3 separate regions of the Homo sapiens genome follow, and regions 1 and 2 are each linked to region 3. The links come from fine-mapping of genetic effects on gene expression. A gene starts in region 3. Each other region holds a variant in brackets. All regions are shown on one strand. Distances are from middle to middle. Region 1 has its middle 6.2 kb from the start of CUL4B. Region 2 has its middle 61 kb from the start of C1GALT1C1. Region 3 holds the start of C1GALT1C1 (C1GALT1 specific chaperone 1).

The links. PIP is the estimated chance that this variant, and not a neighbour inherited with it, causes the effect.
Region 1: its variant is the best candidate, but not a certain one, in a credible set for the expression of C1GALT1C1 in NK cells (Gilchrist 2021, PIP 0.82).
Region 2: its variant is the best candidate, but not a certain one, in a credible set for the expression of C1GALT1C1 in anterior cingulate cortex (GTEx, PIP 0.56).

Annotation. Positions count from the first base shown.
Region 1 is chrX:120,562,644-120,571,739 of GRCh38, reverse strand. It overlaps a transcript of CUL4B not described here. Among named protein-coding and RNA genes, the nearest start is that of CUL4B, 6.2 kb to the right of the region's middle. The variant AAT/T (reference allele first, on the strand shown) is at 4,620.
Region 2 is chrX:120,685,319-120,695,885 of GRCh38, reverse strand. No RefSeq gene overlaps it. Among named protein-coding and RNA genes, the nearest start is that of C1GALT1C1, 61 kb to the right of the region's middle. The variant A/G (reference allele first, on the strand shown) is at 4,485.
Region 3 is chrX:120,627,220-120,637,158 of GRCh38, reverse strand. It overlaps C1GALT1C1 (C1GALT1 specific chaperone 1), which reads left to right and starts at 7,105. Exons shown (of 2, transcript NM_001011551.3): 1 at 7,105-7,242. RefSeq lists a silencer at 6,868-7,137 and an enhancer at 6,797-7,724.

The DNA of each region.
Region 1 (9,096 bases), 65 kb after region 3:
TGTGTATAAATGGACCATCACAGTTTAAACCCCAATTGTTCAAGGGTCACCTGTAAACAGTTGCCTAAATGGGCCATGATCTTTCTCATGCCTCCATGTCTTTGCACACACTGTTCCCCTTTTCAAGTAATCCATAGATCTCTAGATCTCACTGTCCTGATACTACAAATTAAGTTTGGATTTGTATGATTAATATACAGGTTACAACGTTAAGCCCCCATATTGTGGACCATAGAGAGTCCATTCTTCCACCAGGTTGGAGGGTGCATCCCCCGCCCTTGAGTAATTTCCAGAAATCCACAAGGTATGCTTAAATGTTACAAAAATCAATCCTAGTTGTCATTTGTTATCTCTGCCAGCTATTCTTTCTGCATACTGTCATGGTCTGCCTTCAATAAGTCACCACTTCCTGTCTTGAAACTTTTTTTAAAAAAACCTTTTAGTTTTTTTAATTTTAAAAATTTCTGCAAACACTATGGCGACTTGTGTAATTTTAATACATACAAAAGATGTATGATGTGTAATTTATGGAGCATAATTATTAAATAAACATCCAGGAATCTATCATCTGTGTGTAAGAACTAGAACATTACTGATGCTTTTGAATTTACCTAAATTCCCCTTCCCTAAATTTTCCTCCCATACTTCCCCTAGAGCAATCTCCTATCCCAGATCTTACATTAATTATTCCCCCCACCCCACCCCACCCCCTTTTTTTTGTTATCTCCCTGTGTTGCTCAGGCTAGTCTCGAACTCCTGGGCTCAAGCGATCCTCCTGCCTCAGCCTCCCAAGTAGCTGGGACTACAGGTGCATACCATATCACCCAGCTATTTTCCTTCTATACTTTAATACTTTTATCATATTATATATCTGCAAGTTTTTCTTATTTTTGAGCTTTATTTAAAAAGTTATCAAATTGTAGGTATTATTTGGTGATTTGTGTTTTTCACATAACATTGTTTGAGACTTATGCACATGGCTGTAATTTATTCATTGTTCAATGCTGTATAGTATTTCATTATGTGACTATACCACAATTTATTTAGCCATTTTCTTATCAAAGAATATTCTCTTGCCATCCTTTGAAGTCTGCATGCAGAATAGGAATAGAAAATCCTTAGCATGTTCTAAATCACTTTCTCCTTTGTGCCATGTCTCTGTTTTTAACAATTAGTATATTCAAATGCAAGGACTGGCAATTTTTTTTTCTGTTAAGGAACTAGTAGGAACTATTTTAGACTCTGTGGGCCATACGGTCTCTGTCAAAACTCTAAACTCTGCTGTTTTAGCATAAAAGCAGCCACAGAAAATACATAGGCAAATAAATATTGCAATGTTCCAATAAAACTTTATTTACAAAAACAGGTAAAGGACAGGGTTTGGTCCATGGGCTGTGGTTTCCAAACCCTGCTGTAGTTTATCTGAATTTTTGTAGTGTTGCCCAGTATTGTGGTTCTTATTATCAAGTCTGCCCTTGTCTTACTTTGCACGTGTCAAACCCTATTCTCCCGCTTTGTGATTCTCACCTCCTATATCTAAGAGTGAGCCTGACTTGTAAATCCAATTCCTGAACCAGTGTGGCTCAAGGCAAGAAGTGTTATCTGTAGCCACAGCTCCAACAGCAAGTAGGGTATTTGAGTAAGATTTGGTGCTAAGAGGCCTAAGATTGCTGTACCAGACTTGAGATTGGGATGCTGCCTTCATTTCCTTCATTAGCTCTTCAGAGTTTCTGGTTAGGACTGAAGTTACACTCTAATAACTAGTCTCCTTGCAATGTCCTGAATGTGCCTTACTCTCTCTTCCTTTAGGATTTAAATGTGCTTCCTATCTTCCTTCTTTATGCCCCCTGCTCCCTTTCACTCCCTTTGCCTGGCTAATTCCCACTCACTCTCGGGGATTTAAATTGGATTTCTTTCTCTGGAAGCTATTCTTAATTCCCTTCCTCCACTGCACCCCACCTCACCCTCCTAGGCTGGGCCAGGTGTCCCACCTCTGCGTTCTCATAGTGGCCTTTGTCACTCTGTCTTGTAATTGTCTGCCTTACCCACCAAATATATTACTTGGTAATAGAAACTTCCCAGCCGGGCGCGGTGGCTCACGCCTGTAATCCCAGCACTTTGGGAGGCCGAGGCGGTTGGATCACAAGGTCAGGAGATCGAGACCATCCTGGCTAACACGGTGAAACCCCGTCTCTACTAAAAATATAAAAAGTTAGCCGGGCGTGGTGGCGGGCGCCTGTAGTCCCAGCTACTCCGGAGGCTGAGGCAGGAGAATGGCGTGAACCAGGGAGTCGGAGCTTGCAGTGAGCCAAGATGGCACCACTGCACTCCACCCTGGAAGACAGAGCGAGACTCCGTCTCAAAAAAAAAAAAAAAAAGAAACTTCCCTAAGGTGAGTGATAATTTAAAAGTTGGGCATTTAGGGATAGCTCTAAACCTACATTGCCAATTGAGAATGGAGGGCAAGGGTTGTCTTTGTATACTAAGGGAGTAGAACATGATGGGTCTGCCGGCAGGGTTCCTTCACTGTTTTCCTGGATTTGGCCAGGAGAAGCAGCCAGTTTCTACCTCTTGTGAAGATCAGCCACTGGCTGAGGGTCCAGCCAGAGAATAGACTGATTCTCTAGAACAAGATTGCCACCATATCCTTAAATGTGCATTGCCGGCTGTTTTGTCCTACCTGCTTGATGGTGGCCTGAACTGCATGCAAGCTTGGTCTCCTTTTGGGCATTTTGATTTAGCTTATCTCAATAAAAGAGTTATTTTCTTATTCTTCATTTTTTTCTCTTGGTGAGTGGGGCTCTGAACGTCTTTTTCTAACATGTCTACTACTTGAGACTATTTTATGGCAAGTCTCCTTACGAAATTGTAAACTATGGGAAGTGCTGTATTTGGAGTCTGTGAAGAACTGGACTTAGGTCTGTGTGCTTTGTGACTTTAGCAAATAATTTTAACTTCCTTTGCTGAGCCTACTTCTTATCTGTACAGTGGGGATGGTACTTGATCTATCTCACAGTGTGTTTATCAGGATAAAATAAGATTGTATGTGAAAGTGCTTTGAAAAACTGTGAAATCAACTACAAATTGAATTTTGTGTTATTCTGTATTCCCTCACGGCATCTAGCACCATGCGTTGCTGAGAGTATTTGCTCAATATATTTTTGTTGAATGACCAAAGGAATTGGAGAGAGAAATAATGCTGTTGGTGGGAATAAAGGACATTTAGTAATAGAAGCAGGAAAAATACATGACTTGGTAATAGAAACTTCCCTGAGGTGAGTGATAATTTAAAAGTTGGGCATTTAGGGATAGCTCTAAACCTACATACCCAATGTCTGCTCTCTGCTTTGCTTATAAAAAATATTTAAATTTTCTTTTAGTATGATTTTGGCAGCTTAGATAAGCTGTCAAACTTGATTAGGTTTTAAATATGCAGTCATCAAAAAGCAGGATTGGCCCTAGGCAATACTGTGAGGTCAGCAAAATGTACTCTCAGAAATCTTTCCTTCCTGGTTGGTAACCTCACCTCTCACCACTCCCTATTGCAGTGGCTTCTTCTAGTTCTGTTTACCTCCAGTCTCCTAGGACTTTCCTATTAGCTTTTTTCCTCCAAGAGGCATTCACCTTAAAGGGTTAGGAACTAAGACTCCTTGGCTAATTTGCACTTTAAAAAAGGATTCCTAGAGAAGGAGGCAATGTGTTATCCAAATGAGTGAATAAATAATCATGAAATTTCAGGCATTAAACGGAATACAAGTGCTTATCAGCCCCATTCAAATCACAAGACATACTTACTTCATCTACAACTATGGTTTCTCAAACTTGGAGGTATGTAGAATTTCCTGGAGAGCTGTTTTTTTTTTTTTTCTTCAGAGTCTTACTTTGTCACCCAGGCTGGAGTGCATTGGCACCATCATAGCTCACTGCAGCTGGAACTCCTGGGCTCAAGCAATCCTCCCACCTCAGCATCCCAAAGTGCTGGGATATGCCAGCACATACAGCTAATTTTTTTTTTTTTTTTTCGATAGAGACAGGGTCTCGCTTTGTTGACCAGGCTGGTCTTGAACTCCTGGCTTCAAGCAATACTCCTGCCTCGGCCTCCCAAAGTGCTGGGATTACAGGCACAGGCATGAGCCACCGCACCTGGCCAAGAGCTTCTTAAAAATACTGATAATTGAGGTCCTCCTCACAGAGATTCTGATTGAATTGGACTGACTAGGTTTGGACCTGGGTAAAGATTAAAAAACAAAAAAAACTCCTAGGTCATTCTATTGTACAGTGAGTTGGGAACCCTGGATTTAAATCTAAATTGGCACTGGGTGCAGTGGCTCATGCCTGTAATCCTACCACTTTGGGAGGCCGAGGTGGGCGGATCACCTGAGGTCAGGAGTTCAAGACCAGCCTGGCCAACATGGCAAAACCCCATTTCTACTAAAAATACCAAAAAATTTAGCTGGGCATGGTGGTGCACACCTGTAATCCCAGCTACTTGGGAGGCCAAGGCAGGAGAATCACTTGAACCTGGGAGATGGAGATTGCAGTGAGCCAACATTGCACCACTGCACTCCAGCCTGGGCGACAGAGCCAAACTCTGTCTCAAAAAAAAAAAAAAAAAAAAA[AAT/T]CTAAATTGGCCTTGTCTGTGAGAAAAAGAAAAGCTGAATGCCATTAGATCAAACATTGAGCAGGGTGGGGTTGGAGGGACTTTGAGAGACATCGATAAAGTAAACAGAATGTTAAAAATAGGCCCATGCCATGGCACATCAGCTCGCCAAATATATATATAGGCCCAGCAACTCCATAAGCAAGTCCTTGGCAGCACCCAAGGGAGAAGTCATCTGTGGCTGCTCTGGCTCCCCACTCCCAAACCCTCAGGGAAAACAGCCTATCTCTAACTTTTAGTCCTTAAATCTGCTTTCCAGATGGTTCACAGGTATGACAGATAAAATCTCTGAGCTAAGGAACGAAGTGCTTGAATGGTTGATGTACCAAGTCAGTAACTTCAGGCGATGTAAGATAAACAATTTTGCTAAAAATATGAAATTTGGCTGGGTGCGGTGGCTCACACCTGTAATCCCAGCACTTTGGGAAGCTGAGGCAGGCAGATCACCTGAGGTTGGGAGTTCGAGACCAGCCTGGCCAACATGGAGAAACCCCGTCTCTACTAAAAACACAAAATTAGCCAGGCGTGGTGCTGCATGCCTGTAATCCCAGCTACTTGGGAGGCTGAGGCAGGAGAATCGCTTGAACCCGGGAGGTGGACGTTGTGGTGAGCCAAGGTAGTGCCATTGCACTCTAGCCTGGGCAACAAGAGCGAAACTCCATCTCAAAAAAAAACCCAAATATATATACATATATATATATATATATATATATATATATATATATATATATATACCTATACACACACACATACATATGAAATCTGTTATCTATTTACATTTTACTTAGCACATAGGTTCAGCACATGTTATTACTTTCCTTGCTTTTATATAGCAATCTCAGGATGGGAAACTGATGAATTCACATTGTGTAGTTGGATTATTTTTGCTTGAGCTTTGGCCTCCTCAGCAGCCCATTGGTGTTGATAGCATAACAAAGCCCTTATTATGATACAATCTTTACTATCTCAGCATTGCTTAGTTTGCCTTCTCTGTACTTTCCTGCTTCAAAGATGATCCTTCAGAAAAGTGGATGAAGAAAATGGACTGCCTGGGCCGGGCGCGGTGGCTCACGCCTATAATTCCAGCACTTTGGGAGGCCGAGGCGGGCGGATCATGAGGTCAGGAGATCAAGACCATCCTGGCTAACATAGTGAAACCTCATCTCTACTAAAAATACAAAAAAAAATTAGCTGGGCGTGGTGGTAGGCGCCTGTAGTCCCAGCTACTTGGGAGGCTGAGGCAGGAGAATGGCATGAACCCGGGAGGCGGAGCTTGCAGTGAGCTGAGATGGCGCCGCTGCACTCCAGCCTGGGTGACAGAGCGAGACACTGTCTCAGACAAAAAAAAAAAAAAAAAGTAAATGGACTGCCCTTTACCTAGCAGTTTTTTTTTTTTTTTTTTTTTTTTTGCACTCTGTCACCTAGGCTGGAGTGCAGTGGTGCAATCTCGGCTCACTGCAACCTCTGCCTCCCGGGTTCAAACAATTCTCCTACTTCAGCCTCCCAAGTAGCTGGGACCACAGATGTGCACCACCAGGCCTGGCTAATTTTTGTATTTTTAGTAGAGACAGGGTATCGCCATGTTGCCCAGGCTGGTCTCAAACTCCTGGCCAAGTGATCCACCCACTCTGGCCTCCCAAAGTGCTGGGATTACAGGTGTGAACCACTGTGCCCAGCCGTTTTTTCTGTTTTGTTTTGTTTTGGTTTTTGCTTTTTGTTGTTGTTTGTGTTTTTTTAATGCATTCTCAGAAACATCTTCAGATTCTCCTGGGCAAGCAGTCTCTCCCATTCCTAAGGAAAATCCCACCCATTGGATAGGAAGGCTTCCAGGAGTGTCTGTCTAGTGGCAAGCCACTGGTATGAGATATCTGGAGAGGACCTAAAGCACCCCAGATGGCTATAACTGTATGGCGTCCTACATTACACATCTTGATTCCCCAAGCACCCTGGGGAATCCCTGTGATCAAAAAGGGGAAATGGGTTACACTCTGCCTTTTTAGGGAGATGTCCACAGAAATAAAGGAATTGACATTGTAAAAGCTAGCTCCCTGTCTTTGTTTGTATTTCTTCCTTTACACATATACTTACCTTTATAAACAGCTTGGTTAAAGGTGGCCAATAATAACTACACTTCATGTGGCAACATTGTAAAGTTTAATTAATGTTTCTAAGGTATGAGTTGAACTCACAAGATGAAAGATCCTAAATATGGAATATGTGTTAAGTGCCCAGTCTGGTTTAGTCTGATAATGGCTATAATTGTATGGTGTCCTACATTACACATCTTGATTAGTGTGGCTCCCGTGAGTTCAACCTTGAAAATGTATTTTAATGTTGAGAATGTGTTTAACGTTGATTGGCAAACATTTGGGTGTACAGAATATACGCTTATGTTCTTCAACTAGCCTCAATTAGTTGGTTCTTGATGTAAAAGATATTTTACAAACCAACTTGGAAGGTTTTTGTTTTTTTTTGAGACAGACTCTTTCTCTGTTGCCCAGGCAGGAGTGTAGTGGCACAATCTCGGCTCACTGCAACCTCCACCTCCTGAGTTCAAGCGATTCTTCTGCCTTATCCTCCCGAGTAGTTGGGATTACAGGCACCTGCCAACGTGCCCAGATAATTTTTGTGTTTTTAGTAGAGATAGGGTTTCACCATGTTGGCCAGGCTGGTCTTGAACCCCTGACCTCAGGTGATCGGCCCGCCTCAGCCTCCCAAAGTTTTGGGATTACAAGCCTGAGCCACCTAGCCTTGTTTTTTGTTTGTTTGTTTGTTTTTTGTAACAAGGTCTCACTCTGTCACCCAGGCTGGAGTGCAGCAGTGTGAGCTTGGCTCACTGCAACCTCTGCCTCAGGTTCAAGGGATTCTTTTGCCTCAGCCATTTGAGTAGCTGGGATTACAGGTGAACACCACCATGTCCGGCTCATTTTTGTATTTTTAGTGGAAACGGGGTTTCACTATATTGGCCAGGCTGGTCTGGAACTCCTGGTCTCATGTGATCCACCCATGTTGGCCTCCCAAAGTGCTGGGATTACAGGCATGAGCCACCACGCGTGGCCAGATCTGTGCTTTTTAAAACCAACATGTAACTCAGAAGACTGAAGGGCTTAGATAACCATGTGAGATAGGGAACTATTATTACTAGAATGTAGTTAAATATTAACAGGACTCAGCTATCATTTAGGTTAGTAGAAAAGTTTATCTTTGTATGGCAAAAGCAGCTTTCTCTTATCTTTATGTCCATTCCCTTTCAGTTGCACTAATATTTGTAATTTTTTAAAATGGCTAGCACTTCATATACCCTCCTAAAGATTTTAACTACATGAATTAGAACAACCTTGTTCATTAAATCCTGAAAATGAGTCAGTTAATCCTCCCTTATAAAGACACAGCATTATTTTATTCACATGCAATGAAATACTCAATTCAATAAGCATTTACCCTGCATTTACAGTGGTTCAGCATTTTGTGAACTGTGAGACACGATAAAGGAAAGTTCAATGTATTAAGGTGTCTTTCCTGGCCTTAAGAGTTTACTGTTTCTATTTGGGCAGCAAGAACTATATGGTAGGCCCAGCACTTTGGGAGGCTGAGGCAGGCGGATCACTTGAGGCCAGGAGTTCGAGACCAGCCTGGCCAACATAGCAAAACCCTGACTCTACTAAAAATACAAAAAAAATTAGCAGGCGTAGTGATACATGCCTGTAGTCCCAGGTACTCAAGAAGGCTGACGCACAAGAATCGCTTGAACCCGGGAGGCAGAGGTTGCAGTGAGCCAAGATTACACCACTGCAGTCCAGCCTGGGCGACACAGCAAGATTCTGTCTTCAAAACAAAACAAAATGAAAAAAACTATGTGGTATATTCAAAACAGATAGGAGTGCTTCCATCTGTCTCCTTTCAGGCCCCCATCTCCCTTCTCAGCGGTTCTAAGTTCCATTAGAGCCTTGCTTTCAGCAGGCTGTCATCAAATAGCAATGATATTGTCTAATAATGCCAAAGGTTGATTTGCATTTTAATCAGGGACTTTTCAAGACACAAAAACAAGTGGGCCTGTTTAAACAAAGTTAGAAAGTTGATTTATTTGCAGGGTTCTGATTCACCTATCACAAGGTATACCATACAAGCTGCTTTTACTCCACTCACAATCCTGTCACCCCTGGTTTGTAAAAGCTCTGCTTGCTGGATTGTCTCCCTGCTATCTATGATCGCCTACAGAGTAGACTCCAAATTCTTGGCTTGGTGTGCCAGGCACTTTTGAGCCTCATCTTCCTTACTCCCAGCCAGACATCCTACTTCCCAGCCTCACTGCACTTTCCATGTTTCCATAAACAGGCCTGGCCCTTTCACTCCTTGCTTTGCCCTTGTTTCCGTTCCCCAGAATGCCTTTCATCCTGTTCCCTCTTCTCTTTTTGGCAACTCCCACTTTGAGACAC
Region 2 (10,567 bases), 58 kb before region 3:
TGTCAGCCGGAGAGCTCAGGCAGGGGTGGGCAGAGGCCCCATTGGGAGGTCCCATCCAGTGAGGAGGAACGGGATCAGGCACCTGCTTAAAGCAGCAGTCTGGCCATGTTTTGGTAGAGGAGCTGTGCTGTGCTGGGGGATCCCTTCAGCCTTCAGCTCAGACTCCAAAGTCTGAAGGCTGGAATGGCCAAGACACCCATACAGCAAAGATGGTGGCCCACCCCTTCCCCTGGGAACTCCTTCTTAAGGAGGTGCGATGCAGCTACTGGTAGTTGGCTGGAATTCCAAGCCAGTGGGTCTTATCTTGTGAGGTGCCATGGAAGTGGGGTGTGTGGGCTGTTGCGGCTCAGCCCCCTGGGAGAAGCCTGGTTTCCCCGGGTCACTCATTCAGTCACCGCTTCCCTGTGTGGCGGGGGGATCCCCTGGCTCCATGTTGTTCCTAGGTAGGCTGTTGTCTTGCTTTTATTCGTTCTCTGTGGGTCAGGTTGTTTCCTTGATTAATCCCAGTGTGAATGCCTGGATGTTTCAGTTGAAGGTGTTGTATTTATTTGCCCCTTCTTTTCCTCTACCTGACAGCCATGCACACTAGCTGCTTCTAGTTGGCTATCTTGGACACTCCCCTCCGCCCCCCACTCTGCCATTCAGCCTTTCAAAAGAAGGAAATTTGGCTGGGCATGGTGGCTCACACCGGAAATCTCAGCACTTTGGGAGGCCGAGGCGGGTGGATCACCTAAGGTCAGGAGTTCGAGATCAGCCTGGCCAACATGGTGGAACTCCATCTCTACTAAAAATACAAAAATTAGCCTGGCATGGTGGCGGGCACCTGTAATCCCAGTTACTGTGGAGGCTGAGGCAGGAGAATTGCTTGAACCCAGGAGGTGGAGGTTGCAGTGAGAGGAGATCACGCCATTGCACTCCAGCCTGGGCAACAAGAGTGAAACTCCATCTAAAAGAAAGAAAGAGAGAAAGAAAGAAAGAAGGAAAGAAAGAAAGAAAGAAAGAAAGAAAGAAAGAAAGAAAGAAAGAAAGAAAGAAAGAAAGAAAGAGAAAGAGAAAGAAAGAGAGAGAAAAAGAAAGAAAGAAAGAAAGAAAGAAAGAAAGAAAGAAAGAAAAGAAAGGAAAGGAAAGAAAGAAGGAAAGAAAGAAAGAAAGGAAATTCTAGCTAGGCATGTTGGTATGCATCTGTAGTCCTAACTACATGGGAGGCTAAGATGAGAGGATTGCTTGAGCCCAGGAGTTCAAGTCCAGCCTGGGCAACATAGCAAGACCCCATTCCTTAAAAAAGGAAGAAAATTTTGTCACTTGCAGCAACAACATGGATGGAATTAGAGAGCATTATGCTGAGTAATATAAGCCAGAATAGAAAAGCAAATACTACATGTTCTCAATTATATGTGGGATCTAAAAAACTTGAACTCATAGAAGCAGAGAATAGAATGGTAGTTACCAGAGGCTGGGGGTGGGGTGCATGGGGAGATGATGGTTAAAAAATATAAATAGGCCAGGTGTGGTGGCTCATGCCTATAACCCCAGCACTTTGGGAGGCCAAAGTGGGAGGATCGCTTGAGGCCAGGTGTTAGAGACCAGCCTGAGTAACATAGCAAAACCCCATCTCTACTAAAAATGAAAAAATTAGCTTGGTGTAGTGGCATGCACTTGTGGTCCCAGCTACTCAGGAGGCTGAGGCAGGAGGATCACTTAAGCCCAGGAGGTCAAGGATACAATGAACCATGATCACATCACTGCACTCCAGCCTGGGCAACAGAGCTAGACCTTGTCTTAAAAAGACACACACTCACACACACATAAGCACCAACTCATTCCTTAGGAGAGATAAGGGGTTTTTTTTTTTACATCTACTGCACAGCATGGTAAATATATTTAATAATAGTGTATTGTACATTTCAAAATTGCTAAGACAGTAAATTACAAATGTTCTCACCACAAAAAATGATAAGTATTTGAGGTGATGGATATGTTAATTACTTTGAATTAATTATTACACATGGTATTCATAAATCATAATATCACTTTGTACCTCATAAACATATACAGGTATAAATTGTCAATTTATAATAAAATAAATAAAAAATAAATTGATTGAGACTTGTAAAAAATATCTAAGTCTTTCTCACATGCATCCTTAAAGCCCATTTCCACTATGGAAACCTGGGTATATAATCCTGAGTTTATTTACCATGTAAGTTCCTTCAAATGTCCCCATAAGCTAGTACCAACTGAAACTGAAACACTCAACTTTCCATAAAGACAGCAACAAAACAAGACTATGATGAGAATCCAAGTCTTTTTTTTTTTTTTTTCGGAGATGGAGTCCTGCTCTGTCCCCCAGGCTGGATTGCAATGGCACAATCTCAGTTCACTGCAACTTCCACCTCCTGGGTTCAAGCGATTCTCATGGAGCAGCCTCTTGAGTAACTGGGATTACAGGTGTGCACCACCACGCCCGGCTAATTTTTGTATTTTTAGTAGAGACAAGGTTTCACCATGTTGGCCAGGCTGGTCTCAAGCTCCTGGCCTCAAGATATCTGCCTGCCTCGGCCTCCCAAAGTTCTGGGATTACAGGCATGAACCACCACTCCCAGCCAGAACCAAGTCTTTTTCACGTTTCATTCCCCAGTGTCTAGCACAGGGCCTGGCCTGAAATAGATGATGCTCAGTGAAATTTCATTGTATTATACAACACAAGAAGGAAGAAGCAATTCTCAACCTTCCTTAGCACATGCCAAAGCATCAGCCAGTAAAGGAACTGAGAGAGGCTGTCATCTACAGCATGAATGGGAATATGGCAAGGCTTTCATTCAAGTAATTTTCTCTCACATTAGATGCAAAGTCATTACTCCTTCTAGACAGTTTCAACATTCTATAATCAACCACCAGCGGCATGGTGTGGTGGACACCTAGCAGCACCAAAAGAGCTTCCTGTCCCAAGTGGCCCCCCACAGTTGCCTGTCATGCTGCCTTATCTTCTTAGTATAGTCTTCACTCTTTAAAGGGTTAGGTTTTTTTGGGTTTTTGTTGTTGTTGTTGTTGTTGTTGTTCTGTGTGTTTTTTTTTTCTATCAAGGGTGAACATGTAGCAGAGCTAGGATCATCTGACTAAGTGGAGACAGCCCGATCTCAGCTCTTATAGCTCTTTTGTAAGCAACCTATGATTCTTCAAGCCTCTTGAATTCTGTATTACAATAGCCTGCTATGTTGGATTCAGTTAGGTATGTGCTAAGCACATGGTTCTCCTGCATAATAATGTAAGAAAACATCCTCCTAGAGTTGGTGGTCAGTCATCTCGTACTCTATGTTTATGTCTGATATCTTCCTCTGACACACCAGCAGAGAGCACGTAAGTTAAGTGACCTTTACCCATGGTTTCAGAGACATGATGGGTCCAAGGTCCTAGCTGCATAGGAAATCCAAGAGTGTAAATTTTTAAAAATTGATAGGAATTTTATAAAGCCAAATTTGAAGAAAGAGCCAAGAAAACTTATGAATGGAGAATGTCAAAAGCAGTAGACTTTAATTTACCCTATATACAAAAATTAACTCAAAGTGGATCAAATATCTAAATTTAAGAGTTAAAACTATAAAACTTGTAGAAGAAACAGAGGAGCAAATCTTGACAACTTTGAATTTGGGCATAGTTTCTTAAATCTGACACCAAAAGCACAGGCAACAAAAGAAAAAATATAGTAATTGCACTTCATTAAAATTATAAACTTTTGTGTATCAAAGGACATTATCAATAGAGTGAAAAGAAAACCCAAAGTATGGGAGAAAATACATGCAAATCACAAATCTGACAAAGGCTTAATATCCAAAATATATAAAGAACTTTTACAACTCAACAACAAAAAGACAACCCAATTTTAAAATGGGCAAAGGACTTGAATAAACATTTTACCGAATAAGATATGCAAATGGCAAAAATCACATGAAAAGATGCTCAACATCATTAGTCATTAAGAAAATGCAAATCGAAACCACAATGAGGTCCAGGTGTGGTGGCTCACACCTGTAATCCTAGCACTTTGAGAGGCCAAGGCAGGTGGATCACTTGAGGTCAGGAGTTCAAGATCAGCCTGGCCAACATGGCGAAACCCCATCTCTACTAAAAATAGAAAAATTAGCCAGATGTGTGGTGGCACGTGCCTGTAATTCCAGCTACTCGAGAGGTTGAGGTGGGAGGATCACTTGAACCCAGGAGGCAGAGGTTGAAGTGAGCCGAGATTGTGCCACTGCACTCTAGCCTGGGTGACAGAGTGAGACCTGGTCTCAAACACACACACTCACACACACATACACACACACAAAATGAGATATCACTTCTATCCTACTAGGATGACTATAGTAAAAAAAAATCAGACAGTAACAAGCATTGCTGAAGATTTGGAGAAATTGGAACACTCGTGCATTGCTGTTGGGAATATAAAATGGTGCGGCCACTGTGGAAAACAGCTTGGCACTTACTCA[A/G]AAATTTAAATGTAGAATTATTATATGATCCAGCAATTCCACTTTGGAGTATACACCCAAATGAATTGAAAGCAGAGACTCAAACAGATACTTGTACATTCATGTTCATAAGCAACATTATTCACAACAGCCAAAAGGTGGAAACAACCCAAGTGTCCATCAATAGACGAATGAATAAACAAAATTTGGTATATCCATACAGTGAAATATCATTCGGCCATAAAAAGGAGTAAGGCTCCAACACATACTACAACATTCTGAGTCAAATATGCCAGGCACAAAAGAACAAATACTATGTCACTCCACTTACATGAAAGATTTTAAATAGGTAAATTCATAGAGACAGAAATTAGATTAAAGGTTATCAGAAACTGAGAGTAGGAGGGAGGGAAGAATGAGGAGTTATTGCTTACTGGATTCATAGTTTCCGTTTGCGGGGGTGAAAAAATTTAGAAATAGTGGCAATGGTTGTACAACATTTTGAATGTAATTAATGCCATTGAGTTTTACACTTTAAAAGGTTAAAATAGCAGTCTATTTCATACGTATTTTACCACAGTAAAAAAAAAAAAAGCAGTTGCTGTGTCTGTGTTAATGGTTCTATTTGAAGTGAGAAGCCATAACAGAACCAGACGCAGCTCAAGGGCATTTTGATAGGGGACCTGAAAGAACAGTGCCAGCAACTCCAGTTTTGCTTTTGCACAAGGATGATGGTGGTTCAGTGTGCTGGTTCAGCCTTCGTCACATTCTCATCAGATGCTGCTTAGTTGAGCTTTAGGATGAGATGCATGATCCATGACTCTACGCAGGAGACCTCTTGAGGCTCTGGAAAGTGAATGAGCTCAGCATTCTTGTTAGGGGAGGGAAGAGGATGTTCCAAGGACTGTGGGTGAAGGCAACGTGTTTGTTGCCCAGGGTTATAATACATGGAGCCAAGGAGCAGATTCCAAATGTGGAGTCCTGAGGATGCCAAGATGTTAGCTGATACAGAGCACAAAACATAAATCACCAAGGCTGAAGGATTACCAGAAATATAGAACCAAGATATGAAAGCAAAAATTAAGGAGACAGGGAAGCTAACACATGAAGTGGGTTAGGGTGGGCTTGAATTGTTTCTGAGCTATCTGCCTCAGATTTTTATAGGATTCTCATGACTGACATTACATTTAAGGGCCTGAAAAGAATGGAACGTTTAAGGTATTTTTGGCATTATAAACCATCATTATTAGACTCTTTTAAGAACACTCCCTTTTAAGGAGAGAAGTAACCTGGGAAACTGACAAGAGCTGTTAGCCTGAGAAAGGAAGAATCGGGGCATGTCAATCTTTCCTCCTCCACAAATAATCAATAGAAATAACAGCATTCCTCAGACATAATAAAAGAACTTAGATGACACTTTATTATAGGCACAGAGACTTTAGAAATGGAAGACACAGCAATTGTCTGTTACATGACCACTGGATATTGGAAATTGGATACCATATGAAACAGAGAGGCTCCTGGAGTGTTGGTACCTGCTATGGAAGCCCCATCTATGGAGCAACCAAACCCAGGTGCTATTTGTCCAGGTCAGGTCTATGTCCTAAGGCTAAGAGTGATAGCAGGTAGATAACATGGGGACAGCTGAGTGAAGTTGAGGCAAAGAGTCAGAAAGAAAAACCTGTGGCACAAGAGACTTATCACACAACTGGGATGGCCACCCCTTACAATCTGTGCGATGTTTCTATACCTCATGCTTGTAAATTCAGTGCAGAGGCCATCAGGTTGTGAGACCAAGTAGATTTATCTCTTGCTGCATAGCACAGATCTGGGCCTGGAAAGAATGAAACAGTCTCTGAGTAAGAAAGGGGAGAAAGTATTAACAAAAAAGAGGAGGAGAGAGGGAGATTGATAAAAGAAAATGTGAAGGGGAACATAATTCAATCTGCTTCTTTCATAATGCCAAGGGCAAGGCTAGGCTTGCCAAAATCGCACAGGAGTCAGGGATTCAATATTTACCCAACAGTCGGTGGCTAAAATAGATTATAATATAAAACCAACTGAATTATGAGAATTACTTGAGCAGTAGAAAACTAAAATATATTAAAGTCATCCATCAGGCCCTCCTGTTGCTAGTAAATGATAATTGGCTAAATCTATTTTCTGGGGTTGCTAGCAAAGGTTGCTCTGGCTCCTGCTCTGGCAGGGAGTAAAAGGAGCAGGTCCTGGGGAGCTAGCCCTGCATACAGGACTTGGAAGAGAGGTACTTCTTTCCTGTGTATTACACAGAAGACAAGTAATAAATTATACTGGTTGTGGGTGATAGGGAGACATCAAGTCAAAATTAGAATAAGGAATACAAATGTGTTATCAACTAAAGTGTCTAGATATTTTTTGAGCCATAGGACCCTTTGACAGTTTAGGAAAAACTATAAATTTCTTTTAAAAGAATAATATTTAAGTATATAAAATAAAACATAATGAGCTACAAATGAAACCAAATATATCTCTGTACAATCATAAAAATATTAATAAGTGATACAGTAATGTATGTGTTTCCTTATTCACACATCCAATAACAAGATCTGGTGGCAGGTCTAGTAACTATTATGATTCCAAAGTAGTGATTAGCATAAAAGGTACTTTGAAGCCTCTACAACTTCTGAAATTTTATATTAAAAGATTTCTACTCCTTTCAAAGTTGCATGTACTACACGTACTACTGTGGTTCGCTGCTTATGTTCATAATATAATTTTAGTTGGACGTTAGTGAAAATGAAACTGTATTTTTTTTATACAAGTTTATAGACCCCTTGATTTTTACCCATTGACTCCTTGGGGATTTGTGCATCCAGATTAAGAACCCCTGGTAGAAGTAAAAAACAAGAGCCAAACAAGGAAGCAGGAAAAGTTACAAACAAATCTGCCTCTTTTATAATAGAGAGGGCAAGCAGGAGGTCTAAATTAAGTGCAGATACCTGTAGCGGTTTTTAAAATGTTCCCATTGTCTTAGTCCATTTGGGCTGCTATAACCAAATACTGTAAAGTGGGTGGCTTATACACAACAGAAATTAATTTCTCACAGTTCTGAGGGCTAGAAAGTCCAAGATCGGTCGGCCACGGTGGCTCACGCCTATAATCCCAGCACTTTAGGAGGCCGAGATGGGTGGATGACCTGAGGTCAGGAGTTTGAGACCAGCCTGGCCAACATGCCAATACCCTGTCTCTACTAAAAATACAAAAATTAGTTGGGCATGGTGGTGCACACCTGTAATCCCAGCTACTCGGAAGGCTGAGGCAGGAGAATCACTTGAACCCAGGAGGCAGAGGTGGCAGTGAGCCAAGATTGTGAGATCGTGACACTGCACTCCAGCCTGGGTGACAGAGCAAGACTCCAAAAAAAAAAAAGAAAGAAAGAAAGAAAAAGAAAGAAAGAGAAAGAAAGAAAGAAAGAAAAGAAAAAGAAAAGGAAAGGAAAAGAAAAGAAAAAAGGAAGTCCAAGATCAAGGCACTGGAAGATTTGGTGTCTGGTGAGGGCTCACTTTCTGGTTCTCAGATGGCACACTCCCACTGTGTCTTCACAAGGTGCAAGGAGCAAGCTAACTCTCTGTGGCCTCTTTTATAAGTGCACTAGTCCCACTTGTGACATAATCACTTCCCAAAAGCCTCACCTCCTAATACCATCACACTGATAACTAGGTTTCAGCGCATGAGTTTCGGGGACGCAAATATTCAGATCATAGCACCCATAATGCACTTGCTTGACTGAACTGAATTCAGCTAAAGGACCAGACAAAAAGCAGACAGGTTATAAATAAAAGAAGAGTGGCTCCATGTTGGTAGCTATTGAAGCTGTGTGATACATACACAGGGACTGTTTGTACCACTCCCTCTACTCATCTGTATATTTGAAATTTTTCATACTAAAATGATTTAGAAGTAATAAACACAATAAAGGGGCTAGATGCAGTGCCTCTCGCCTGTTGTCCCAACTACTTAGGAGGCTTAGGAGAGAGGATCACTTGAGCCTAGGAGTTCAAGGTTGAGGTGAGCTATGATTATGCCACTGCACTCCAGCCTGGGTGACAGAGCAAGACATTGTCTCTAAAAAAAATAATAAATTAATCTAAGTAAATTAAATAAAGGACCTGACATGTCAGGTGCAGTGGCTCGTGCCTGTAATCCCAGCACCTTGGGAGACCAAGGCAGGAGGATATCTTGAGGTCGGGAGTTCAAGACCAGCCTGGTCAACATGGCGAAACCCTGTCTCTACTAAAAAATAAAAAAATTAGGTGGATGTGGTGGCATGCACCTGTAGTCCCAGCTACTCAGGAGGCTGAGGCATGAGAATCACTTGAACCTGGGAGGCAGAGGTTACAGTGAGCTGAGATCGTGCCACTGCGCTCCAGCCCAGGAGACAGAGCAAGACTCCATCTCAAAAAACAAATAAAGATAAAAATAAAAATGAGGACCTGACATCCTGTTTGATCATCAGAATTCCTCAAATTAATTAATTCATTCACTCACCTATCTATTCATTTATTCAATATTTATTGTTGCCTCTGGCACAATGTAGGTTATAGGAAGACTGAAACAAGAGTCATGTAGGTGTCAGACCAGGAGAAACATTAAGGAGGAATCAGTTCCAGTTCAGAATGAAAGTAAGAGAATGGTAGGAGGAAACCAGGAGGCAAAGTAGAAGACTCTGAAGGAGGACATTTTGATAAGGGTGAAGTTCTTGAAAGAAAGCGAAAGAAGGTGGGGCACATAACAATGGGGCACATATTATAAGGTAACAAGCTGGCTGGAAGCAAGAATGGGGGATTGGAGAAAATGGCTGAAGACATGGGGAACTACCAATGGCAGCTTTGCAGCCTCCTTCACAACTATGTCTATCCCTGCATGGAGGAATCAACTTGGTGGCTGTTTTCCACCCAAAAAGGTTTATTCAAGAATACATCATTTGGTAAATAAAAACAAACAAACAAAAAAGTCAGGTCTCATCAGAGCTCTGTCCTTAAAACATCATTTTAAAGTTCATTATGAATCTCAAAAGAAAAAAATATGTACGTTAACTTGTGGAACAGATAATTAAAAGGAACACAGTATAAAAAGAACACAGTATAAAAGGAACAGTATAACTTGGAACTAATGAAAATCAAATGTCAGAGAGAAGAAATTAATCTCTGTTTATATTTCATTTCCTCTAACATTTGCCTAACTGAGAAAACAGCAACTAGGTTTTAATAACATTGGAAGAGCAAAAATTCCCAGGATGTAACCCTTTAAACAAGTTTTCTTCTAAAGACCATTTCAATAATGGCTTGGTAATTATTACATTCAGAGGAGAACTCTGGCTGGCACCTTCCAATAGTGGGATACAGGACCCCGCTGGCAGCCAGATGCCCACATTCTACACTCCTGACTCTTTCAAGAAACAAAGTCCAGACGAGTTTCATCAGGAAAATCTTTTGTAAAAAGATTGGCAAACGAGAGGAATTCTGCTCCAAAATGTGTTTCTCCTTCTTTGGCTACTACTAGTTATGTTTCCTTCAGCATTTCCTGTGACTCTGTTAGCCAGAACACAGTGACTTGAATTTGTCATCCAATTGGCAACTGTTCCATTCCCTTCAGGGGTCCTAGTTATATCTGCTACAACATCTGAACAGTAGGTGGTCCAGTCCCTGTCCACAAAGGCACACAAGTCAGAGGGGAAAATAATATCTCTAAAATATTCATCTCTCAAAAACCTTCTTACACCCATGGTTGGCAGCAAGAAAAGTCCTGTTTGCTACTACCAGCATTCAAATAGTTTAATGATTTGCCATCAAATTAGCCTAAACTATCTTGGTTAAGAACACAGGCTCTGGAGACAAACATGGGTCTTTATTTAAGAGACCACACACACACATACTTACTAACTGTGTGACCTTGAACAAGTTACTTAACTCCTCTAAGACTTAGTTTCATAATAAGTAAATAAGGAATAGATAGATACAGCTATTTATCTCATAGAGTCGTTGTAAGCATTAAATGAGAGATCTTGTGCAGTTCCTTCCCTGAAACCCCCATCCCTCAGTAATGCAGGCCTATCACTCCACTGG
Region 3 (9,939 bases):
CAAAAACAAAAATTGACAAATGGGACCTAATTATCCAAAGAGCTTCTGCACAGCAAAAGAAACTCTCAACAGAGTAAACAGACAACCTACAAAATGGGAGAAAATATTTGCAAACTATGTATCCAACAAAGGTCTAATATCCAGAATCTATAAGGAACTTAAATGAATGTACAAGCAAAAAACAGCACCATTAAAAAGTGGGCAAAGGACAATGATATTGTTTGGCTTTGTGTCTCCACCCAAATCTCATCTCGAATTGTAATCCCCACGTGTCCAGGGAGAGACCCAGTGAAAGGTGAATGGATCATGAGGACGGTTTCTCCCAAGCTGCTCTCATGATAGTGAGGGACTTCTCACTAGAGCTGATTGTTTTAAGTGTAGCACTTCCTCACTCTTCCTCTCTCTCTCTCCTGCCACCATGAGGAGACATGCCTTGCTTCCCCTTCACCTTCCACTATGATTGTACGTTTCCTGAGGCTTCTCTAGCCATGCAGAACTGTGAGTCAGTTCCGGCACAGTGGCTCAAGCCTGTAACCCCAGCACTTTGGGAGGCCGAGGTGGGTGGATCACCTGACGTCAGGGGTTCAAGACCATCTGGGCCAACATGGTGAAACCCTGTCTCTACTAAAAATACAAAAATTAGCTGGGTGTGGTTGCATGCGGCTGTAGTCCAAGCTACTCGGGAGGCTGAGGTGGGAGAATTGCTTGAACCTGGCAGGCAGATGTTGCAGTGAGCCGAGATTGTGCCACTGCACTGCAGCCTGGGCAAAAGAGTGAGACTGTCTCAAAAAAAAAAAAAAAGAAGAAGGAAAAGAATAAGTGTGAGTCAATTAAACCTCTTTCCTTTATAAATTATCCAGTCTCAGGTAGTATCTTTATAGCAGTGTGAAAACAGACTAATACAGACATGAACAGGCACTTCTCAAAAGAAGACATACATGTGGCCAACAAATATATGAAAAAATGCTCATCATCACTAATCTTTAGAGAAATGTAGATCGCAACCACAGTGGGATACCATCTTGTGCCAGTCAGAATGGCTATTATTAAAAAGTCAAAAATAGCAGATGCTGGTAAGGTTGTGGAGAAAAGGTAATGTTTATACACTTCTGGTGAAAATGTAATTAGTTCAGCAATTGTGGAAAGCAGTGTGGTGATTCCACAAAGGGCTTAAAACAGAATTATCATTTGACATAGCCATCCCATTATTGAGAATATACCCAAAGGAATATAAGTCATTCTACCATAAAGACATATGCATGCATATGTTTATTGCAGCACTGTTCACAATACCAAAAACATAGTATCAACCTAAATGCCCATCAATGGTAGACTGGCTAAAGAAAATGTGGCATGTATGTACCATGGAATACTATGCAGCCATAAAAAAGAATGAGACCATGTCCTTTGCAGCAACATGGATGGAGCTGAAGTCATTCTCATAAGCAAACTAACATAGGAACAAAGAAAAAAATACCACATGTTCTGTTTTTTATTTTTTGAGACAGAGTCTCGCTCTGTCACCCAGGCTGGAGTGCAGTGGTGCGATCTCGGCTCACTGCAACCTCTGCCTCCCAGGCTCAAGTGATTCTCTTGCCTCAGCCTCCCGAGTAGCTGGGACTACAGTTGTGTGCCACCATGCCTGGCTAATTTTTTTTATTTTTAGTAGAGATGGGGTTTCACCATGTTGGCCAGGTTGGTCTCAAACTCCTGACCTCAGGCAATCTGCCTGCCTTGGCCTCCCAAAGTGCTGGGATTACAGGCGTGAGCCACTGCGCCATGCCTTTTTTTTTTCTTTTTTTGAGACAGAGTTTTGCTCTTGTCGCCCAGGCTGGAATGCAATGGTGTGATCTTGGCTCACTGCAACCTCTGCCTCCCAGGTTCAAGCAATTCTCCTGCTTCAGCCTCCCGGGTAGCTGTGATTACAGGTGTGTGCCACCACACCCAGCTAATTTTGTATTTTTAGTAGAGACGGGGTTTCACCATGTTGGTCAGGCTGGTTTCGAACTCTTGACCTCAGGTGATCTGCCCGCTTTGGCCTCCCAAAGTGCTGGGATTACAGGCGTGAGCCACCACACCCGCACTCTCATTTATAAGTGAGAGTTAAACAATGAGAACACATGACACAAAGAGGGGAACAACAGACACCAGAGATTACTTGAGCGTGGAGGGTGGGAGAAGGAGAAGATTAAAAAACTAACTATTGGGAACTATGCTTATTACCTGGGTGACAAAATAATTTGTATGCCAAACCCCCAAGACATGCAGTTTACCTATATAACAAACCTGCACATTACCCCTTAACCTAAAATGAAAGTTAAAAAAAAAAAAAAAACTGCTGGCTTGACACAGTGGCATACGCCTGTAATCTCAGCACTTTGTGAGTCCGAGGCTGGAGAATTACTTGAGGCCAGAGCTCAAGACCAGCCTGGGCAACACAGCAAGCCCCTGTCTCTACAAAACATTATCCAGGGTGGTGGTGCCTGCCTGTAGACCCCATATTTGGAAGGCTGAGGCAGGAGGATTGCTTGAGCCTAGGAGTTGGAGGCTGTAGTGAGCCATGATTGCACCACTACACTCCAGCCTGGGTGTCAGAGTGAGACCCTGTCTCTAAACAAAAACAAAAAACAAAAACAAAAACAAAAACAGAAAAACAATAATGCATTTGCCCCTATTTCTGTGGGAGAGATCACTAGAATGGGTTTGCTGGGCCAAAAAGTATGAACATCTTAATTTTAATAGATACTAATTGCACATGTTTTTTAAATTAAGGCTGAGATATGGAATGTTGTTTTAAAAAAAACGCCATTACTGGCTGGGCGTGGTGGTTCACGCCTGTAATCTCAGCACTTTGGGAGGCCAAGGCAGGTGGATCACCTGAGGTTGAGAGTTGGAGACCAGCCTGACCAATGTAGTGAAACCCTGTTTCTACTAAAAATACAAAAATTAGCCAGGCGTGGTGGCATGCGCCTGTAGTCCCAGCTGCTCGAGAGGCTGAGACAGGAGAATTACTTGAACCTGGGAGATGGAGGTTACAGTGAGCCAAGATCACATCACTGCACTCCAGCCTGAGTGACAGAGTGAGACTCTGTCTCAAAAAAAAAAAAAAGCCATAAGTCAATCATCTCACTAACTTTATTTAAAATGCTAAGTATATGTAAGTTATTTGTCAAGTAAAGAACTGGGTTCTTAGACAATTTCTTATTAACAGAGCTTTTGGTGTTGAAAATCCCATGGTTTATTCTGTCTCAGAGCATCTTATGTCAATTTTGTGTGTGTGTGTGTGAGACGGAGTCTCGCTCTGTCACCCAAGCTGCAGTGCAATGGCATGATCTCGGCTCACTACAATCTCCGCTTCCCAGTTTCAAGCGATTCTCCTGCCTCAGCCTTCCAAGTAGCTGGGATTACAGGCGTGCGCCACCACGCCTGGCTAATTTTTTGTATTTTTAGTAGAGACGGGGTTTCACCGTGTTAGCCAGGATGGTCTCGATCTCCTGACCTCAGGTGATCCGCCTGCCTCGGCCTCCCAAAGTGCTGGGATTACAGGTGTGAGCCACCATGCCTGGTCTCTTGTGTCATTTTTTAAATAATATTTTTTAAAATTACCAACCACTATAAGAAGCGCTGCTCTTATATTATTAATACTTCCAGTTTGGTATACAGTACTTTTCTATACTAAAAGAAGAATCATTTTATTTTTTTCCAGCTTTATTGAGGTATGTTTGACAAATAAATGTATACAATTAAAGTGCACAATGTGATGATTTGCTATATGTATACACTGTGAAATGATTACCACAATCAAGCTAATGAACATATTCATCATCTCAAATAGGTGCCCTTATTTTCTAGGAGAAACATTTTATATTGCCTCTTCATCACAGTCTGAATTCTGAGTGTCATTTCTGTCCTTCCTGGTCCCTTTTTGCGAGGACAGAGTGGTTCTCTGCATTCTTTAAAAGATATTTTTATTGGTATCTTTTCTTTTTTTTCTTTTTGTCCCTGTAATTTTAAGGTCCTTTTATTTGCTGGTCTTCAAATTCAAAATAGGTGCTTGTTTATAACCAGTGAAACAATGCAATACAAGGATGTATAAAGACAAAGCTAATCATCCCCACCTCAACCTCCTGATGTAATCAATATTAAGAGCTTGCTGAGTATTCTTCCATAACTCTCTTTGTTCATACGAACAGATCAAACCTATGTGCACGTTTGTTTCCACCAAAACATAATCATATAATATGCAGTATTCTGCAATTTGTTTCACTTAACTATATAGGTATATATACATACATACATATATATTTTATATAATATGTGAAATAGACTATATTACTTAACAAAATATAATGAAAATATTCCACGGTCTTAAATTCTTTTCCAGTTCTAAAATTCATTTTTTCTTTTCCAGCGGGCCCACTGTCAGAAATAAAATTCATTTTGGTATTCCTTTAGAAAACATACCACCATTATAATTATTTGTAATAAATTGTTTAATGTCTTTCTTCCCCACTTGACTGACAGCTCCATGAAGTCAGGGTACTTATTTTGCTCACCACTGTATCTCCAGATTTTAAGATAGTGTTGCCAGGATAGTAACTACCTACAATATATTTGTTCATTGTTTCAGAGTTCCCTGAAACCTTCAGTCTACTTAAACTAGGTCACTGACAACACTCAAATACATGTGTGTCTTTAGGAACTCAGGCCCGAGTAAGTCACCACTCAATTTTATCTTAATGGAACCTAGTAACAATACACTTTAAATAATTGTAAAAATTTGGGCTTTTTAGCAAAAAGCCTTCTGCCACAAAAATGAATTTTTTTTTTTTTTTTGAGATGGAGTCTTGCTCACTCTCCCAGGCTGGAGTGCAGTGGCACGATCTCGGCTCACTGCAACCTCCACCTCCCAGGTTCAAGCAATTCTTCTGCCTCAGCCTCCCGAGTAGCTGGGATTACAAGCATGAGCCACCACGCCCGACTAATTTTTATTTTATTTTATTTTATTTTATTTTATTTTATTTTATTTTTTTTTTTTGAGATGGAGTCTCGTTCTGTCGCCCAGGCTGGAGTGCAGTGGCGCTATCTGGGCTCACTGCAGGCTCTGCCCCGGGGTTCACGCCATTCTCCTGCCTCAGCCTCCCGAGTAGCTGGGACTACAGGCGCCCGCCACCTCGCCCGGCTAATTTTTTGTATTTTTAGTAGAGACGGGGTTTCACTGTGTTAGCCAGGATGGTCTCGATCTCCTGACCTCGTGATCCGCCCGCCTCGGAGTCTCGCTCTTTCGCCCAGGCCAGACTGCAGTGGCGCTATCTCGGCTCACTGCAAGCTCCGCCTCCCGGGTTCACGGCATTCTCCTGCCTCAGCCTCCCGAGTAGCTGGGACTACAGGCGCATGCCACCGCGCCCGGCTAATTTTTTGTATTTTTAGTAGAGACAGGGTTTCACCGTGTTAGCCAGGATGGTCTTGATCTCCTGACCTCAGGTGATCCACCTGCCTCGGCCTCCCACAGTTTTGGGATTACAGGCGTGAGCCACTGCGCCTGGCCAAAAATGAATTTTAAAAGACAGATCGGTGGCTCACACCTGTAATCCCAGCACTGTGGAAGGCCGAGGCGGGTGGAACACCTGAGGTCAGGAGTTCGAGACCAGCCTGGCCAACACGGCGAAACCCCGTCTCTACTAAAAAAAAAAATAATAATAACCAGACGTGGTGGCGCACACCTGTAATCCTAGCCACTAGGGAGGCTGAGGCAGGAGAATCACTTGAACCCGGGAGGCAGAGGCTGCAGTGAACCGAGATCCCGCCATTGCACTCCAGCCTGGGCAAAAAGAACGAAACTCGGTCTCAAAAAAAAAAAAAAAAAAAAGAGACACATCAAATATTTCGTGGAAAGAGAGCTCTGCACTCTTAATTAGAAGACCTGGGGGCCGTGCGCAGTGGCTCAAGCCTGTAATCCCAGCACTTTGGGAGGCCGAGGCGGGTGGATCACCTGAGGTCAGGAATTCAAGACCAGCCTGGCCAACCCCGTCTCTACTAATAATACAAAAATTAGCCGGGCGTGGTGGCGGGCGTCTGTAATCCCAGCTGCTAGGGAGGCTGAGGTAGAAGAATCGCTTGAACCCGGGAGGCAGAGGTTGCAGTGAGCCGAGATCGTGCCATTGCACTCCAGCCTGGGCAACAAGAGTGAAACTCCGTCTCAAAAAAAAAAAAAAAAGAGACCTGGATTCCAGTCCCACCTCTGCCATTAACTTGCTGTGTGGACTTTTGAAATTTCCTTATCCTTTTTAGGCCTGGTTCCTCAGCTGTAGTTCTAATATTCATTAATTCCACTAATATTTACTGTCCACTGCGTGCTGGCACTGTGGTTAAGTACTAGAAATACTGGGGTGAATAATAACAGCCAGTACTTTTTAGTAAATGCTTACTCTAGGCTTGAAATTTTGCTAAGGGAGTCATATGCACTATCTCATCTAATTTTCTATGAAATAGGCACTACTGTGACATTTTCTGTACTTTACAAATGAGGGAACTGAGGCACAGCGAGGTGAAATAACTTTCCTGGGATATCAAAAGGTGTGGTGAAGACAGGATTGGATTCCAGGCAGTGGGGCTTCAGATCTCATTCCAGTAATAATAGGAAACCGTTGGTGTCATAATTACGTGACTATTTCAGTGGCTTGCGTTTTGGTCTCAGCCCAGGAGTACTGGGGGGGTGGGCAATATGAGGGTTCAAGGACGCAGGGGTACATCAGAGAAACCATCAAGAGGTCTGATAAAAAGCGACACCGGGAGCAAGAATCTCTCGCTCTCGCAATTTCCATGCCAGGAAGGTGAAATGGGAGGTGTCAGCGAGTCGTACGCACGGCCTCTTCTCTGGACGCCCGTTGGGTAAAGGAGAGCGTCCGGGTCACGCAGGCCTATAGCAAGTCTCTGAACTCGGCAGGGGGCGGGGAGAAAGGGCACGCAGTGTGCGCGCAGCGGGCGCGCCGGCCCTTCCGACGCCTGCGCGGGCGGGCAAACGGACGGCTCCGCCCAGCCGCCGGCTCCTTTACCCCGCCCCACTACCCCCGCCTTCGCGGCGCTCGTTTCCTGGCGCTCCCCACCTTTAGCGAGACCAACGAGAGAACACCGCCTGCAGCTAGAACAGCCTGGTCAGGAGCGTAACGGAGTGGTGCGCCAACGTGAGAGGAAACCCGTGCGCGGCTGCGCTTTCCTGTCCCCAAGCCGTTCTAGACGCGGGTGAGTGGCGGGGCCTCGACCCCCACCCCAAGCGCACCCTGACTCCCCTCCCTCTCTTGGGGGAGGCCTGGGCCCCAGCCCTCTCCCAGCATGCTCCACGCGGGATGCTTGGGCAGGTGCAGCGGGAGGATTGTCAGCACAGGAGACCGAGAGTCTTCTTCCTGGGGGCGCTCTCTTGGTCCCTCAGAGGGATATCGAGGTTACCATGTCCTCCCTCTCACTTCTCTTCCCTATTTCGTCTTCGTTTTCCGTACTTCACCCCAACTACCTTCACCCAAAAAGGTTCATCTAAAAACCATTGGGGTAGTTTCTGTTTCATTTGTGCTCGTGTGCAGTTTTGTTTCCTTCTGCACAAAGTATCCTATCATATGCATCCCTAGTGTTATATTTTTTGCCTCTGTGATGGGGAAAAAATCTCCTTAGAATAATTTTTGCAAATTATTTTATTTAAAATGTGTAGACTTACTGAGTTTTGATCACTATTTTTGCAGCCAGGAGTAGGATCACCATCAGGAAGAATTCTGACACATATGCCATAATTGAGCAAAGAAACATGTGAATTATGTATTGGCCAGAAATAATGAAAACTGCGTGACATGAAATACAAAAATCCTATATAAATTAATCTTAGAGTGCACCTGACAATTCTTTTTCTTTTTTCTTTCTTTCTTTCTTTTTTTTTTTTGAAACAGAGTCTCGCTCTTGTTGCCCAGGCCGGAGTGCTGTGGTGCGATCTTGGCTCACTGCCTGCAACCTCCGCCTCCCGGGTTCAAGCAATTCTCCTGCCTCAGCCTCCTGAGTAGCTGGGATTACAGTCATATGCCACCATGCCCGGCTAATTTTTGTATTTTTAGTCGAGACAGGGTCTCACCATGTTGGCCAGGCTGGTCTTGAACTCCCTACCTCAGGTGATCCACCTGCCTCGGCCTCCCAAAGTGCTGGGATTACAGGCGTGAGCCACCGCACACAGCCGACAATTCTAATATTATGCCGAGCTTGTTTTCTGTCACTTCTCTTCTTGGAACTGTGTTTATTGACCAAGTTCTGTGAGTGACACAGGAAAGTCTTCCTGCCTCTTGCCCCACCCACCGCTCAGAAATTACATCTGCCAAGCTATTCCACACCTTGTCTTTCTGGTAGAAGTCAAAATTCCATTTCCTCTAGCAGAAAACCACAGGAGTGGTTTCCTTGTAGCAATATGGTGCTGTTGGGTGCAAAATATCAGTTATGGTCAACAGATCCCACTTTTTTCCCATTTGTATGAAAACAAGGATATTCAGTAACCCATTTATTAAACTCTAATGTGGTAGAAGCACTATGGCAATTATTCTTCTGTAATGGAAAAAAACCATTAAACTGATATTGAGAAATGTGGTTTCTAGTCCACTTATACCACTGTCTAACTGTGTGACTGAGTCAGTTATTTAACCTCTGTGGACTTCCATTTCCTCTCTGTAAAATGAGAGAAGTGACTGACATTGGGTAGTTTTCTAAGGCTCCTTTCAACCATAAGAGAAAACTGGGAAGTCTAAGTAGCTCAATAGATTGCTTTTTTCTGAAGATGGAGGGAAGATTGGAAAATTCAGCCTTTACTAGAATAAATGGTTAACATACAATTTTTTTCAACAAGTTTATTTAATGTCAGCTTTTAATTTCTTTTATTTATTTATTTTTTCTGAGACAGAGTCTCACTCTGATGCCCTGGCTGGAGTGCCGTGGTGAGATCACAGCTCACTACAGCCTCCGCTTCCCAAGTTCAAGAGACTCTTGTGCCTCAGCCTCCCGAGTAGCTGGGATTACAGGCACCCACCACCACGTCTGGCTAATTTTTTGGATTTTGGGTAGAGACAAGGTTTCACCATGTTGCCCAGGCTGGTCTCGAACTCCTGAACTCAAGGGATCCACCCACCTCAGCCTCCCAAAGTGCTGAGATAACAGCCATGAGCCACTGCACCTGCCTCTTAATTTCTAATTGAAATAAAAGTGTAAATTTTTCCATTTTTACTTCCCCAAAGAAGAAGAAAATTCCTTTTGAGGAAATGAAAATGTTTATTAATGGGCCCCAGATATATCTATCAATATTCCTTTTTGATCCAAAAGATGTAACTTTTTATTATGGGCTTCTATTACATCAATAGTTGGGATACTGTATTGGAAACCATTTAGTTTTAGGAACAAAAGGGTAAATATTAACCTATATGGTGTTATTCTCAAGAAACTTGGTTTAGATTTACTCAAAACACTTAAGGACAGCAGCCATCAGTTAAAGAAAGCACTATGTTGAGAACAGAAATGTCAGCACAATACCATTGGTGATTTGCCATTTATAGGTGGTTTTATCTGTTCAACCCAAGGTTTTGGTGTAAAAGTTCACTATATTTTTAGAGGTATTTAAATAATGCAAGCTTGTGATGTGAAATTCTTTAAAGAGAATGGTGGATGGATAACCTCTGTAACACTGGTTTCAAGGGTTTATTAAATCCCCATAGATGAAGTGCAAAACAAACTTCTCCATAGAGGAGTTGTTGCAAAGTTCCAGTTTATACCAAACAGTAATCAGATTCCATTGGAAGCTAAAGATTTTGAGAGCCTTTTGTACTATATGCAACTAACTTGATTTCAAGCTTGGGAACCTTTTAAAAAAAACATTAAAAGCAAAATGTAAGTATATAAGGAATACCAAATCAAATTTATAGA